Linked DNA regions of Homo sapiens. The protein of the gene in region 1 purifies or fractionates together with the protein of each later gene. This does not show direct contact. Each region holds a gene or a part of one and is shown in the gene's direction. Other genes may lie near its edges.

Region 1 (3,500 bases):
TAAAACAGCTTCCATTATTCAAAAATCCAGAATGGCAACCAGCTCTTAGAAATGACTAAAATGACCTACCAGCATTCCCTGTTGTTTTTTTTTTTCTAATGGAGACTTTTGCTGTCCTGCCGAGACCATGTATTATATCTAGTTTCACATAAAAATGAATTTTTGCTGCTAAGTTTGAAAACTGCCTGAAAATAGCAATTAATATTGAAAAAGCTGACAGAACCTTAAGTGTAGTGGCATGATTGGTGCTGCTATAATTATGTGCCTGAGTGTGTACAGGCTGATGTAAACACAGTATGAAAACACACTTGATGCTCAGGACAGTGTAGCCACGTATTTTCTTACGGGTAAGTGAGGGCGAAGGGGAGAGGGAGAGAGAATTGATAGCATTTTTAGAGCACTGTTAGGTGGTGTAGATCTTTCTAATCTTACATCAGTATAATCTTTCTAATTATTTTCACATTCTGTATTTGATCCTCACAATTTGTCGGGGGGAAAAAGGCAGGGCAGGCTTTGTTCTTCCCATTTAATGGATGAGAAAACTCAGTGGATCAGCGAGGATGGGTTAAGGTTCTTATCGACAAAATGGAGAGATTGGACTACATTATTTCCAAGCTTCCCTCTAACTCAAAAGTTCTATGATTATTTTCTGATTGTCCTGAGGTGACACCGCTGTTTAATGGTGGAGACTCCCCTTAAGTCCAGTCCTTTCTGCCACAGTTCCTCCTTATATTCTTCAAATCCTTCACTGTATGTTTAATCATCTGTAAAATGCAATGTCTACTGTACAGGTTGTTGAGAAGATCGCTGAGGGGATTAAAGGAGGATTTGTGAAGCACCTAGCACAGTGGTAGCTATCATTATCATTGTCATCACTGTTACTAATAAGGAGACATGTAGTGTAGTGGAGAGAGCATCAGTGCTGGGGCTTCTGATCATTCACTGACAGAGTTGATAATACCTACAACATAGGGTGGTTTAAAGACTAAAGGAGGGTTGGGCACGGTGGCTCATGCCTGTAATCCCAGCACTTTGGGAGGCCAAGGTGGGAGGACCACCTGAGGTCAGGAGTTTGAGACCAACCTGGTCAACATGGCGAAACCCCATCTCGACTAAAAATACAAAAAAAAAATTAGCCAGGCGTGGTGGACTGTGCCTGTAATTCCAGCTACTCAGGAGGCTGAGGCAAGAGAATTGCTTGAACCCAGGAGGCAGAGGTTCCAGTGAACCGAGATTGCACCACTGCACTCCAGCCTGGGTGACAGAGTGGGACTCTGTCTCAAAAAAAAAATGTCTAAAGGAGATGATGTTTATATGAATGCCTAGCCCAGTGTCTGACTACACTATACCTACAACATAGAGTGGCTTAAAGACTAAAGGAGAGGATATTCATATGAATGCCTAGCACAGTGTCTGACTACCAGGTGCTCAAGAAATGGCTGGCTGGTGTGAATGATAAACCACTCTTCATAAGAAACTCAGATATATTTTCATGATTCCCTCAAAACCTAAAGAGGCATTTCACAGAGGTGAAGTGTAACCTTGAGAGTAACAGAAGCATATAGCCATCTTTATTTTTTTTTTTAAAAAAAAAAAAGGAGATTCTGAAGTTTGGCCATTCTGTACACATCTGAGAGGGAGGAAAAATCCGCATGCATCCAATAGTTAGCAAATGGTCATTGTGAAGTTTCATGTCAGATGGTCTTCTGAAATCCAGTACATACTTTATTCAGTTCCTCCCATTCTCCCCACTGCAACAATCACATAAGATTGTGTGGATTATTTAGAAAAGGCTGTTTACCCTCATTATACCACTTTCTTTGAAAAGCAATCATGTGAATACTATGAGGAACTGCTTGGCTATAGTGATGACCATCATGAGGGATTCAATAAAGTTGGAAACCAAGATCCTGGAGCCTGTATCTGACAGCGTGGTCACAGAAAAGGCTAGGGCAGGACTGAAATATGAAAACTCTCCAAGAGGAATTGTGGTTACTTGTCTCTATGAAGGATTTCTTGGTACTGAATTTTCAGGGTGCAAAAAACTAACAGATGTAAGCATCTGTTGTCACATGCCCCAGGACTGTGTTGGGGAAGCGTTGGCAGGTGCTAAGGAGTCACAAGGTGAATGGCACTGCCCTGGACCAGTTACTCTAAAATCTAGTCAATGGCTTAACCCACTGGACCTGAGACAATGCATATTGTTCGGAACACCGGCTTTCAACCACATTTTGTTTTTTATAAGTATTATTTGAAAAAGATAAAACACAGCAACTGGCCATTTGGATGTGAAATCGATTCTTATATGATATACATCTCTCCTGGAAATTATTCTCACTGTGAATGTCCATCCTGCATAGACATCTCAAGAACAATTGAGTTTTTCTACTTGAGAGCAGTACATTAAATGCTTTGACCAATGTCTGTTATGTTTGGTTACCTTCCAGTTTTAAAATATGTGAATTTCCTTTTTACTGTTCTAGGGGAAAGCGATGGTATTTGCCCCACGCCGAGGGAATACTTTAAACCAGTTTTGCAATCTAGCTGAAAAAGCTGGTTTCTGTATCCAAAGACATGAAAATTATGATGAACACATTTCAAACTTCCACTCCAAGGTTAGTTTTCTGCTTGTGTTAGATAACACTTTAATCCGCATTGCATTTTGAAGAGATCATGGTCTTTTTGGCAGGTAACCTAAATATTTGATTAAAGTACTCCTTAGATGTGTTGCTTCTGAACAGCTATTTGTATCTGATTATTTTGTGTGGTAAAGCCATCTTTTATCTTTGCATGTCTAGAAGGATTTTACAGAAACCATTCCTGTTTACTCTTTTCTCTGAAACAAACTAATCTTTTCATTCATAATAGACTAATTTGTAGGATGTAAGGGGAGGTGGCATAGAATGAATAACATGCATTTATATTTTAATGAAAAACCTTCAGCTTTTAAGTAGGTTAAATGCTTAGCCGCACTGAAATAAATAGAAGGTGAATGTCTAATTGTATCATGTTGGACTGTAAATCTTTATCTCTGCTTGCTTTATAGCTGGGTCAGTTGGCAGTTTGAGACTGTTAAATCTCATACAGAATTTCACAGTTGTGGGGTTATATGTCAGATGGAGGCACTACAAGATTTAGGTCAAAAGCACTTATCTGAGAGTGATTTCTAAGCCTGCTTACATAAAGCAATGTTATCAGCCTTTTTATTATTTATAGGTATAGACCAATATAGGACACTGAGAGGCGAGTGTTTCACTGAAAACTTTTTAGGATTCTCACGTTTGCTAGTAGTACATGTCACAGTGACTAGTATAACATGTATTATTTCAGTAATTTTGTGCCTTACGGAAATCTCCCTTCACTGAGCTAGTCTGACCTTGGCAAGAGACTTTAACTTGTCATGATTTCACAAGTTGTAACTGCAGAAAAATAAAGGCCCGAGCTTAATTTTCTCCTGGGACAATGTGAACAGCATCCTTTATTACCCAGGACTGTAATAT
Region 2 (3,500 bases), on another chromosome or scaffold:
TCTCAGCTCATCCTCTTCTCCCCCCTTGCAGGGTGAACCTGGTGCTCCTGGCAGCAAAGGAGACACTGGTGCTAAGGGAGAGCCTGTAAGTCTCCCCGCCATCCTTCTTGCAGCCCAGCCCACCCTGCCCTAGGAGCCCCCTGAGGGAAATCCAGAAAGGAAGAGGAGCCCCTAGTCTTCTGGGGGAGTCCCTGCCACACCCCCAGGAACCCCTGACACTGGAGGCCCAGCCTCAGCCGGCTCTGAGGCTGGCACAGGATGGCCCCTCACCACAGGCCGCCTCCTCCTCTCGGCCCTCTCCAGGGCCCTGTTGGTGTTCAAGGACCCCCTGGCCCTGCTGGAGAGGAAGGAAAGCGAGGAGCTCGAGGTGAACCCGGACCCACTGGCCTGCCCGGACCCCCTGGCGAGCGTGTAAGTGTCCCTGCCCGCCCCCTCCCGCTCCACCCTCATTGCCTGGCTGGTGCCTGTGTGTCGCGGAGTTCACTGGCCTCCTCTCCTCCTGCAGGGTGGACCTGGTAGCCGTGGTTTCCCTGGCGCAGATGGTGTTGCTGGTCCCAAGGTAACCTCTCCTTGCGGCCGGGGGGCTGACCCTGCCGCTCCCTGGGCATCTTCTTCCTCTTTTGGCCCGTGGCAAAGAGCCACAAACTTGAGACCCTAACTGTTCCTGTGACTTCCCCCAACCAGGGTCCCGCTGGTGAACGTGGTTCTCCTGGCCCTGCTGGCCCCAAAGGATCTCCTGGTGAAGCTGGTCGTCCCGGTGAAGCTGGTCTGCCTGGTGCCAAGGTGAGGCCCCAGGCTTTCAGCCTGGCTTGGCCAGGCCCTGACCATCCCGTGTAGGGTCTGGGATGAGGCGTTCTGGATCAGGCCCAAGGGTCTGCCCTCTGGAGTCCTCCCCCACCTCCATCATGCTTCTCCCCAAGTCCCACTCATACCTCTCTGCCTCCCTAGGGTCTGACTGGAAGCCCTGGCAGCCCTGGTCCTGATGGCAAAACTGGCCCCCCTGTAAGTATCACTCCCCCTGAACCCCCTGCCATTGTCCTGTCTGCCTCCCTGCTGTCCTCACTGCTGCTTTCGTGCCTCCCATCCTTAGGGTCCCGCCGGTCAAGATGGTCGCCCCGGACCCCCAGGCCCACCTGGTGCCCGTGGTCAGGCTGGTGTGATGGGATTCCCTGGACCTAAAGGTGCTGCTGTGAGTATTAAGTGAGGATCCATGAAGAGCCAGGGACAAACACACCTGAGACTTGAAGGAGTCCTGGGCTCTGGGCTCAGCTGTGCCGCTGACCTGCCGTGTGGCCACTCACTCTCACTTTCTGGACCTCAGCCTCCCTATCTGTAAAATGAAAGACTTCTCGGCGGGGCACGGTGGCTCATGCCTGTAATCCCAGCACTTTGGGAGGCCAAGGCGGGCAGACCATGAGGTCAGGAGTTTGAGACCAGTCGGGCCAACATAGTGAAACCACGTCTCTACTAAAAATACAAAAGATTAGCTGGGTGTGGTGGTGTGCACCTGTAACCCCAGCTAGTCAGGAGGCTGAGGCAGGAGAATTGCATGAACCCGGGAGGTGGAGGTTGCAGTGAGCTGAGATCACGCCATTGCACTCCAGCCTGGGCAACAGTGCGAGATTCCATCTCAAAAAAAAAAAAAAAGAAGAAAGAAAGAAAGAAAAAATGAAACACTTCTCCAGGCTCCATGACCACTGCTCTGTCCTGGAAATAAGTGTTGTTGGTGGCCCTCCACCCCGACACGTGGGGATAGGACAGGCCTTTGATATGATAGGCACCCCCAGTCTTGGTGGATTCTTTGAGGTCCAAAAGGAGATAGCAGAGAAGATGAAAGCCCTTTGCAGTGCAGGCCACAGCGGGCATCTAACAGGGAAAAGGCAGAGGAGCCTGGAAGGGCATCTTGGGAGGAGTGGGCTCAGAAAGGGCCCAGCAAGAAGCACCTGCAGGGGCATTCCCCGGGGGCCAAACAGTCTTTTGAAAAGAAAGTCCCTTAAAAAGTCCCACTCAGAGTAAATGAGAGGCCCCAGGAGGCCCTGGCTTCTCACTTCAGCCCCCTCAACCCTAACTCCCTTTCTCCACAGGGAGAGCCCGGCAAGGCTGGAGAGCGAGGTGTTCCCGGACCCCCTGGCGCTGTCGTAAGTATCTCCTTTCCATCCCTACCTCCTTCCCATTGCTGCCCCGGCACTTTCTCCTCCCTGCAGGAGGGGTGCTAGAGGCCACGGTCCTCAGCTGCTCGGGGCCTCCTAACCCTGAGTTCCCCTTTGCTCTCTCCCTGCAGGGTCCTGCTGGCAAAGATGGAGAGGCTGGAGCTCAGGGACCCCCTGGCCCTGCTGTGAGTGTCCCTGATGGGGAGATCTGGGGAGCAGAAAAGGGGAGACACCCTCAGCCCCTCGTCTCCTCGGCCTCCCCGTGACTGTAGTGTTCTCTCTGTGCAGGGTCCCGCTGGCGAGAGAGGTGAACAAGGCCCTGCTGGCTCCCCCGGATTCCAGGTGAGGCCTCATGGCTGTCAGGATGCTGGGAGGTAGGGGTAGGAAACACCTCTTTGGTCTCTTCCAGATTCTAAACCTTCCCTCCCTTCTTCCCCCATTTCCCACCTACAGGGTCTCCCTGGTCCTGCTGGTCCTCCAGGTGAAGCAGGCAAACCTGGTGAACAGGTAAGAGGGAGCAGCCGGCCAGAGGGGTGGGAGATGCAGGGAATCCAGAGGGACAGGCCCCCGCTCCTAGCTAATCAGACAGCCATCAACTAGAGGGATTGAGGTTAGACGCCGGAAAGAACTTCCTCCCATGAAGGGAGCAGCACAGAGGGAAGTGGGGGCTGCATGATTGCTAGTCTGGGTGACTTCTTTTAAGAGCTGCTGGAATATGCTGTGACTTTCCCTCAACCCTTCTATTGATAAATCTTGGTCCATAGTTTGGGGAGGGGGGAAGCCTTTGACACATCCCTAGGAGGAAGAGAGGGGCTGTTTGGGATAATCTCAATTCAGTGCTGAGAAGGGGTTCCTCTCTAATCACGGCCAGACCCCAGGAGGAAGGACCGTGCTTTCCAGCAGAGTGGCCCCAGGTGGGTTTTGCTCACTGTCTGTTCCTCTCTCCCTCCCCCTCAGGGTGTTCCTGGAGACCTTGGCGCCCCTGGCCCCTCTGGAGCAAGAGTAAGTAGGCCTCTCTCGCTGCATCCGTCAAGGTGCGTCGTACTTGGCCCTATCTCCAGAGCAGCCTTCACATGCCCTGTCCTTCCCTTCTAGGGCGAGAGAGGTTTCCCTGGCGAGCGTGGTGTGCAAGGTCCCCCTGGTCCTGCTGGTCCCCGAGGGGCCAACGGTGCTCCCGGCAACGATGGTGCTAAGGTGAGGGCAGCGTGGAAGGGGCTCTGGCAAGTGGCCCAGGGACCAGGTCTCACCCCTCCTGCAGCAGGGGATGGCGGGCCATGACCAAAGCCATGGAGATAGGGTGTGGGGTGGGGGGAAAAGACCAGGGCAGGGGCCCACACACAGCCTGGAGTC
Region 3 (3,500 bases), on another chromosome or scaffold:
GGTGCTGCCTGCTAGGTTGGGTGGGGAAGGGGTGGAGAGAAGTTGGTGGGGGCTTAGGAAGGACGGTGACCATTTTCTCGCCTACTAAGAGAAGGCAGTCAGCTAGGATTCACTGTGCAACACAGCTGGGCAGGAAGAAGAGAATCCCCTGTTTGTAAGAGAACAGTCACATACTAGATGCTGTCTACGGCTTGTGAAAAACACAAGGAAACGGCCACCTGAGAGTACTAAAGTGGCCAGGCCCACGGGGTGTGCTGCAAGCACACAGCAGGCATCTGCCTAGCCCGGCCCCTCTGCAGAGCCATAGGGCCTGCCATGCCAGTGACACTGGGCTTTGGACTGCCAAATGGGGCAAAGACAATAGGAGAGAAAGGCTGAGCTGATTTCTCAGTGGGACTGAGACGGAGATCTAGGGAGGCTGATGCTGCAGACAAGTGCAAGGGCCCTCTGTGGTCAGTTTCAGCTGGCCAGTTCTGCTCTCTGGAAACTTCAGTGTTCAATATTTAAATGTGTGGTTTTGTTTGTTTGTTTGTTTGAGATGGGGTCTCGCCTTGTCACCCAGGCTGGAGTGCAGTGGTGTGATCATAGCTCACTGTAGCCTCAAACTCCTGGGCTCAAGCAGTCCTCCCACTTCACCCTCCTGTGCTAGGATTGCAGGTGTGAGCTCCCATAGCTGGTCTTATACAAAAAAAAGTGTTTAATGTTTTCATGTCAAAGTTAAAACAAAGTGCTTGTACATGGTTTTTTCAAACAGTACACATAGATTGTGTATACAGTGCAGAAAGGGAAAGCTGTCATCCCTTCTACTGGTGGCCCCTGAGGTTTTATTCCCTAGGGGGATAACCGAGTGTGTAGACAGTTGTGCTGTGTCCTGCTGACATTTTTCCTTTTTCCTTTTTTTTTTTTTTCTTTTTTTTTTTGAGACGGAGTTTCGCTCTTGTTGCCCAGGCTGGAGTGCAATGGCGCAATCTCGGCTCACTGCAACCTCCACCTCCTGGGTTCAAGCAATTCTCCTGCCTCAGCCTCTGGAGTAGCTGGGATTACAGGCACCTGCCACCACACCCAGCTAATTTTTTGTATTTTTAGTAGAGATGGGGTTTCCCCATATTGGCCAGGCTGGTCTCGAACTCCTGACCTCAGGTGATCCTCCTGTCTCGGCCTCCCAAAAGTACTGGGATTACAGGTGTGAGCCACCGCGCCCGGCCCTGCTGACATTTTTCTGTGTCCATGTGCACCTAGGTGAGCACACAGAGCTGATTTTGTCTGGGGAAAATGGGATCCTGCTATACACACCATTTTGCAGCCTTTTGAAAAATTCATTAATGTATCTCAGACATCCTCCGTGACAGTCACAGTGCCTACCATTGTATATGTCATCATTTAGTAATTTCCCACTTACTGATGACATTTTAAAATTTTTCATTAAAGAAGAGCTGGGCTCAGGCGTTCACACCTGCCATCCCAGCACTTTGGGAGGCCAAGACAGGATGATCACTTGAGTTCAAAAGTTTAAGACCAACATGGACAACATAAGGGGACCCTCTCTACAAAATTTTTCTTTTTTTTGACGGAGTCTCACTCTGTCGCCCAGGGTGGAGTGCAGTGGTGCGATCTTAGCTCATTGCAAGCTCCACCTCCCGGGTTCACGCCATTCTCCTGCCTCAGCCTCCGGAGTAGCTGGGACTACAGGCGCCCGCCACCATGCCATGCTAATTTTTTTTATATTTTTGGTAGAGACGGGGTTTCACCATGTTAGCGAGGATGGTCTCAATCTCCTGACCTCGTGATCCACCCGCCTCGGCCTCCCAAAGTGCTAAGATTACAAGCGTGAGCCACCGTGCCCAGCCAAAAAAATGTTTTTTTAATTGTCCCAGCTACTCAGGAGGCTGAGGCAGGAGGATCCCTTGAGCCCAGGAGTTGGAGGCTGCAGTGGCTATGATTGCACCACTGCACTCCAGCCTGGGTAGCAGTGGAAGACCCCATTTCTAAAATAATAATAATAAAAAATTCCTTTTTTATACTTTAATATTCACTTATCATAAAATAAATGTTTTAGTTAAAATGTCATAAAGCTAGAAATGAACTCTCTTAGGACCCCATCCTTCAAAGACAACCTGTGCTTTCTTAATTGCATTGTAAATGTTTTAATAAAGTAATTTTTTTTTTCATTTTGCTAGCTAGCTAGGTAAAACATTTTCATGGTTTAGGACTTAAAAGGAACAAAAGGGTATATAGTGAAAAGTTGATCTCCTTCCTACCCCGAACTAGTGTTAAGATTCTTGAATGTCCTTTCAGGTATGTTCAGGCAGACGCATATATTTACACACATACAATGGAGCCAGCTGTATACACTGTTTAGTACCCTAGTGTTCCTCCCTGGCTCCCCAGCAACGTATTTTGAAGATCTTTCCATTTCACAAGTATGGCTGCCTCATTCCTGTTGATGGCTGATAGTATCCTCTGCAGAGATACCGCCGTGGATTTAACCAGTCTTCAGTTGATAGGTATTTGGGTTGTTCCCCTTTTTATTATTATAAATTGTTCCTCAGTAAACATTTGTATATATGTCATTTTGCACATGTATGGGTCTATCTAGAAAAACTTACAGAAGTGTAATTGCTGTGTCTAGGGGGATAATTTTGATAGCTGTAGCTCAGCTGTTCTACAGCCCACTGCCCTTGCTATCTCCAGTAGCTCCCGTGGGAAGTGGCCTTCCCCAAACCCTCAGCAGTGCAACTCAGGTGTTTGGATCTCTGTCAGTTTCACAGCAGAAAAATAGAATCTCCTTGTTTTAATTTGCGTTTCCCTTATGAGAAGGGTTTAGCATTATTTCCAGTACCTAAGCTATTGGAATTTCCTTTCCTGTGAGCTGTATGTTTATAGCCTTTGCCTGTTTTCCTAATGGCTGTTGTTTTTCTTACTGATTTAAGGACTTCTTTAGATATTGAAGGAGGGTATCCTTTATATGTGATATGAGTTATTAACAGTCCAGTACATACATTTTAACATTAAGTTCAGTACACTTAATGAAGAATCACAGAATTTGTTTTTTCTTGCACTGAACACCTACAGTGTGTAGCACTGATAAATGCTTCATCCCCCCCAAGAGTAGAGCCACTGTGTAAGGCTGCACTTGTTATGTACTGCAGAAGCCAGGGGTGCCATCAGTAGACCTCATTGTGAGCAGGCCCGTGTCCCAAATTGCATGGGAGCCCCTTGTCCACTAATTAAAGATTGACAAGTGAAAGGCAGCTTGCTTACCCGATGTAGCACTTGGCAGCTCTCAGAGGCAGCCTTGGTGGTTTCACTGCTTCATAGTTCAGTGCCCCCAGGGTGAGTGCAGCATCAGGGATGGACCTGCCCACGTGAAACCAGAGAGGCTGGTCTTTGGCAGTGGCTGTGAATTGTTGCCACCAGCCGTGTGTAGACAAAAGTCAAGTTGGAGTAAGTGGGGAGAGGTCTGTATAATGCAATGCAAGTTTTTATGACTTGAATTAGTT
Region 4 (3,500 bases), on another chromosome or scaffold:
GGGATATGTTCTGAGAAATATGTTGTCAGGCAATTTCATCAATATGTGAACATCATAGAATGTACTTACAGAAACCTACACAGTATGTCCTAGGCTATGTACACCTAGCCTACATGGTATATACCCTGTTGCTGCTAGGCTACAAAATACCTGTACAGCATGTTACTGTACTGAATACCATAGGCAATTATAACACAATGGTATTTGTATACCTGAACATTTCTAAATATAGAAAAGGTACAGTAAAAATATGATATTAAAGATGCTCCACCAGCTGGCTGATATGCCTATAATCCCAGCACTTTGGGAGGCTGGGGCAGGTGGACTGCTTGAGTCCAGGAGTTTGAGACCAGCCTGGGCACCATGCCAAAACCTCGCTTCTATAAAAAGTACAAAAATTAGCTGGGTGTGGTGGCATGTGCCTGTAGTCCCAGCTACTTGGGAGGCTGAGGTAGGAGGATCACTTGAGCCTGGGAGGTCAAAGCTGCAGTGAGCTGTGATTGGGCCACTGCACTCCAGCCTGGGCAACAGCGAAACGCGGTCTCAAAAGAAAATAAGGTGCTACACCTGAATGCAGCTTATAGGACAACTTATAGAGGTTGTTCTAGTTGAGTGAGTGGTGAGTGAATATGAAGGCCTAAGACATTACTATACACTACTATAGATATTATAAATACTTTACACTTAGGCTACACTGAATTTATAAAAATAATTTTTCTTTCTTGAATAATAAATTAACCTTAGCTTACTGTAACATTTTAAATTTACTTTTTAATTTTTTTAACTTTTTGATTCTTTTCAATTCTTTTTTTTTTTTTTTGAGACAGAGTTTCGCTCTTGTTGCCCAGGCTGGAGTGCAATGGTGCAGTCTTGGCTCACCACAACCTCCGCCTCCCGGGTTCAAGTGATTCTCCTGCCTCAGCCTCCTGAGTAGCTGGGATTACAGGCATGTGCCACCACGGCCGGCTAATTTTGTATTTTATTTTATGTTATGTTATGTTATGTTATGTTATGTTATGTTATGTTATGTTATGTTATTTTTTGAGACGGAGTCTCGCTCTGTCGCCCAGGCTGGAGTGCAGTGGCGCGATCTCGGCTCACTGCAAGCTCCACCTCCCGGGTTCAGGCCATTCTCCTGCCTCAGCCTCCCGAGTAGCTGGGACTACAGGCGCCCGCCACCACGCCCGGCTAATTTTTTGTATTTTTAGTAGAGACAGGGTTTCACTGTGTTAGCCAGGATGGTCTCGATCTCCTGACCTCATGATCCGCCCGCCTCTGCCTCCCAAAGTGCTGGGATTACAGGCGTGAGCCACCGCGCCTGGCCTATTTTATTTTTTTTAAAGACAGGGTCTTGCTCTGTCGCCCAGGCTGGAGTGCAGTGGTGCAGTCTTGGCTTCGTTGCAACCTCCGCCTCCTGGGTTCAAGTGATTCTCCTGTCTCAGCCTCCCAAGTAGCTGGGATTACAGGTGTGTGCCACCATGCCCAGCTAATTTTTGTATTTTTAGTAGAGACAGGGTTTCACCATGTTGGCCAGGCTGGTTTCGAACTCCTGACCTCAGGTGACGTGCCCACCTCGGCCTCCCAAAGTGCTGGGATTGCAGGTGTGAGCCACTGCACCCAGCCTAATTTTGTATTTTTAGTAGAGATGGGGTGTCTCCATGTTGGTCAGACTGGTCTTGAACTCCAGACCTCAGGTGATCCGCCCGCTTTGGCCTCCCAAAGTGCTGGGATTATAGGCATGAACCACTGCGTCCAGCCTGGATATTTTTAAAGTGAGGTTAATTGAATGGGTATAACGGTCTTAAGTTTGTCAGTGATTGTTTAGTAGTGATCTTGAACACATTTCAATTTCTTTGTTTCTCCTTAACTCATCTGTTTATCTTTTATTATAATTTGTAATTTTTCTTATAAATTAGAATGATTAAGTATATCTCAGAATAAAAGACCAGTTTTGGCCAGGTGTTATGACTCACACCTGTAATTCCAGCACCTTGGGAGGCTGAGGCAGGTGGATTGCTTGAGCCCGGGATTTTGAGACCAGCCTGGGCAACATGGTGAAATCCCATCTCTACAAAAAATTGCAAGAAATTATGGGCCAGGTGCGGTGGCTCATGCCTGTAATCCCAGCACTTTGGGAGGCCGAGGCAGTGGATCACCTGAGGTCAGGAGTTCAAGACCAACCTGGTCAACATGGCGAAACTCCATCTCTACTAAAAATACAAAAATTAGCTGGGTGTGGTGGCACATGCCTGTAATCCCAGCTACTCAGGCACCTGAAGCAGGAGAATTGCTTGAACCTGGGAGGCAGAAGTTGCAGTGATCTTAGATCATGGCACTGCACTCCAGCCTGGGCAACAGAGCAAGACTCCATCTCAAAAAAAAAAAAAAAAAAAAAAAAAGCCAGGTGTTGTGGTGTGCACCTGTAGTCCCAGCTACTCAGGAGGCTGAGGAGGGAAGATCACCTGAGTCTGGGAGGTCGAGGCTGCAGTGAGCTGTGATTATGCCACTGCACTCTAGCCTGGGTGATGAAGTAAGACCGTATCTCAAAAAATACCAGTTTTTATGATAGAATTTACTTAGTTGCAGAAGAGGGGTGGCAAGGGGAATGTTAATTTGGCTCACTGTTTCCTGAACCTGAAAGAACCAAAGAATTAGCAGTGTAGTGTCAAAAGTTAAATAAAATTTCTTTTTTGTTTAGGAAAATAAAAATATAAACATTTTAGATTATCATTGTTTATCTTCTAGAGGATCTCTGGGAAAGTTTAGAAAATGCTAGTGGTAAACCTATAGCAGCTGTGATGAATACCTGGACCAAACAAATGGGATTTCCCCTCATTTATGTGGAAGCTGAACAGGTAAACATATAAAGTCTTTCCATTTGTCTGATATTGTATTAAATGAAGTTCAGTACAGTGTATCAAGTTTGCTTTTCTGTACTTTAAGTTTTCTAGTGACATTTAAACCAGCCCTGTTACTCTTTTATCAGTAATTTTACAGCTTGCATCATTAAAATTATACATGCTTAAGAGAGAAAACAAAATGTTACTTGCTTGTCTAGTCTCCAGGGAAAATACTGTAAAATTTGATATAATTCTAAAACCACCAAATATGGTTTATTCTACAAATGCAAGGTTGGTTTAACATTTTTTAAAAAATTAGGCCGGGCGTGGTGGCTCACGCCTGTAATCCCAACACTCTGGGAGGCCGTGGCGGGTGGATCACTTGAGGTCGGGAGTTTGAGGCCAGCCCGGCCAATGTAGTAAAACCCTGTCTCTACTAAAAATACAGAAATTAGCTGAGCATGGTGGCACACACCTGTAATCCCAGCTACTCTGGAGACTTAGGCAGGAGAATTGCTTGAACTCGAGAGGTGGAAGTTGCAGCGAGCCGAGATTGTGCCACTGCACTCCAGCTTGGGCAACAGAGCGAGACTTCGTCTCAAAAAAAAAAAAAAATCAATGTATTGATTTATAATCACTACATAAACAGAATCAAATGCA

The links. Proteins that work in one complex are often made in the same cells at the same time.
Region 2: the proteins of CAMKMT (region 1) and COL1A1 purify together in Homo sapiens (affinity purification with mass spectrometry; 3 studies listed by BioGRID and IntAct, with this or other methods). This does not show direct contact.
Region 3: the proteins of CAMKMT (region 1) and TUBB6 purify together in Homo sapiens (affinity purification with mass spectrometry, with the first as the bait; one study listed by BioGRID). This does not show direct contact.
Region 4: the proteins of CAMKMT (region 1) and NPEPPS purify together in Homo sapiens (affinity purification with mass spectrometry, with the first as the bait; one study listed by BioGRID). This does not show direct contact.

What each region holds. Positions count from the first base shown.
Region 1 is NC_000002.12:44,763,947-44,767,446, forward strand, and holds part of CAMKMT (calmodulin-lysine N-methyltransferase), read left to right. Parts: intron 1-2,483; coding exon 2,484-2,615; intron 2,616-3,500.
Region 2 is NC_000017.11:50,191,632-50,195,131, reverse strand, and holds part of COL1A1 (collagen alpha-1(I) chain preproprotein), read left to right. Parts: intron 1-31; coding exon 32-85; intron 86-303; coding exon 304-411; intron 412-505; coding exon 506-559; intron 560-684; coding exon 685-783; intron 784-948; coding exon 949-1,002; intron 1,003-1,090; coding exon 1,091-1,189; intron 1,190-2,084; coding exon 2,085-2,138; intron 2,139-2,281; coding exon 2,282-2,335; intron 2,336-2,438; coding exon 2,439-2,492; intron 2,493-2,603; coding exon 2,604-2,657; intron 2,658-3,107; coding exon 3,108-3,152; intron 3,153-3,245; coding exon 3,246-3,344; intron 3,345-3,500. UniProt on the Homo sapiens protein: Type I collagen is a member of group I collagen (fibrillar forming collagen).
Region 3 is NC_000018.10:12,318,241-12,321,740, forward strand, and holds part of TUBB6 (tubulin beta-6 chain), read left to right. Parts: intron 1-2,295; exon of another isoform or gene 2,296-2,422; coding exon of another isoform or gene 2,423-2,504; intron 2,505-3,500. UniProt on the Homo sapiens protein: Tubulin is the major constituent of microtubules, a cylinder consisting of laterally associated linear protofilaments composed of alpha- and beta-tubulin heterodimers.
Region 4 is NC_000017.11:47,593,608-47,597,107, forward strand, and holds part of NPEPPS (puromycin-sensitive aminopeptidase), read left to right. Parts: intron 1-2,745; coding exon 2,746-2,855; intron 2,856-3,500. UniProt on the Homo sapiens protein: Aminopeptidase with broad substrate specificity for several peptides. Involved in proteolytic events essential for cell growth and viability. May act as regulator of neuropeptide activity.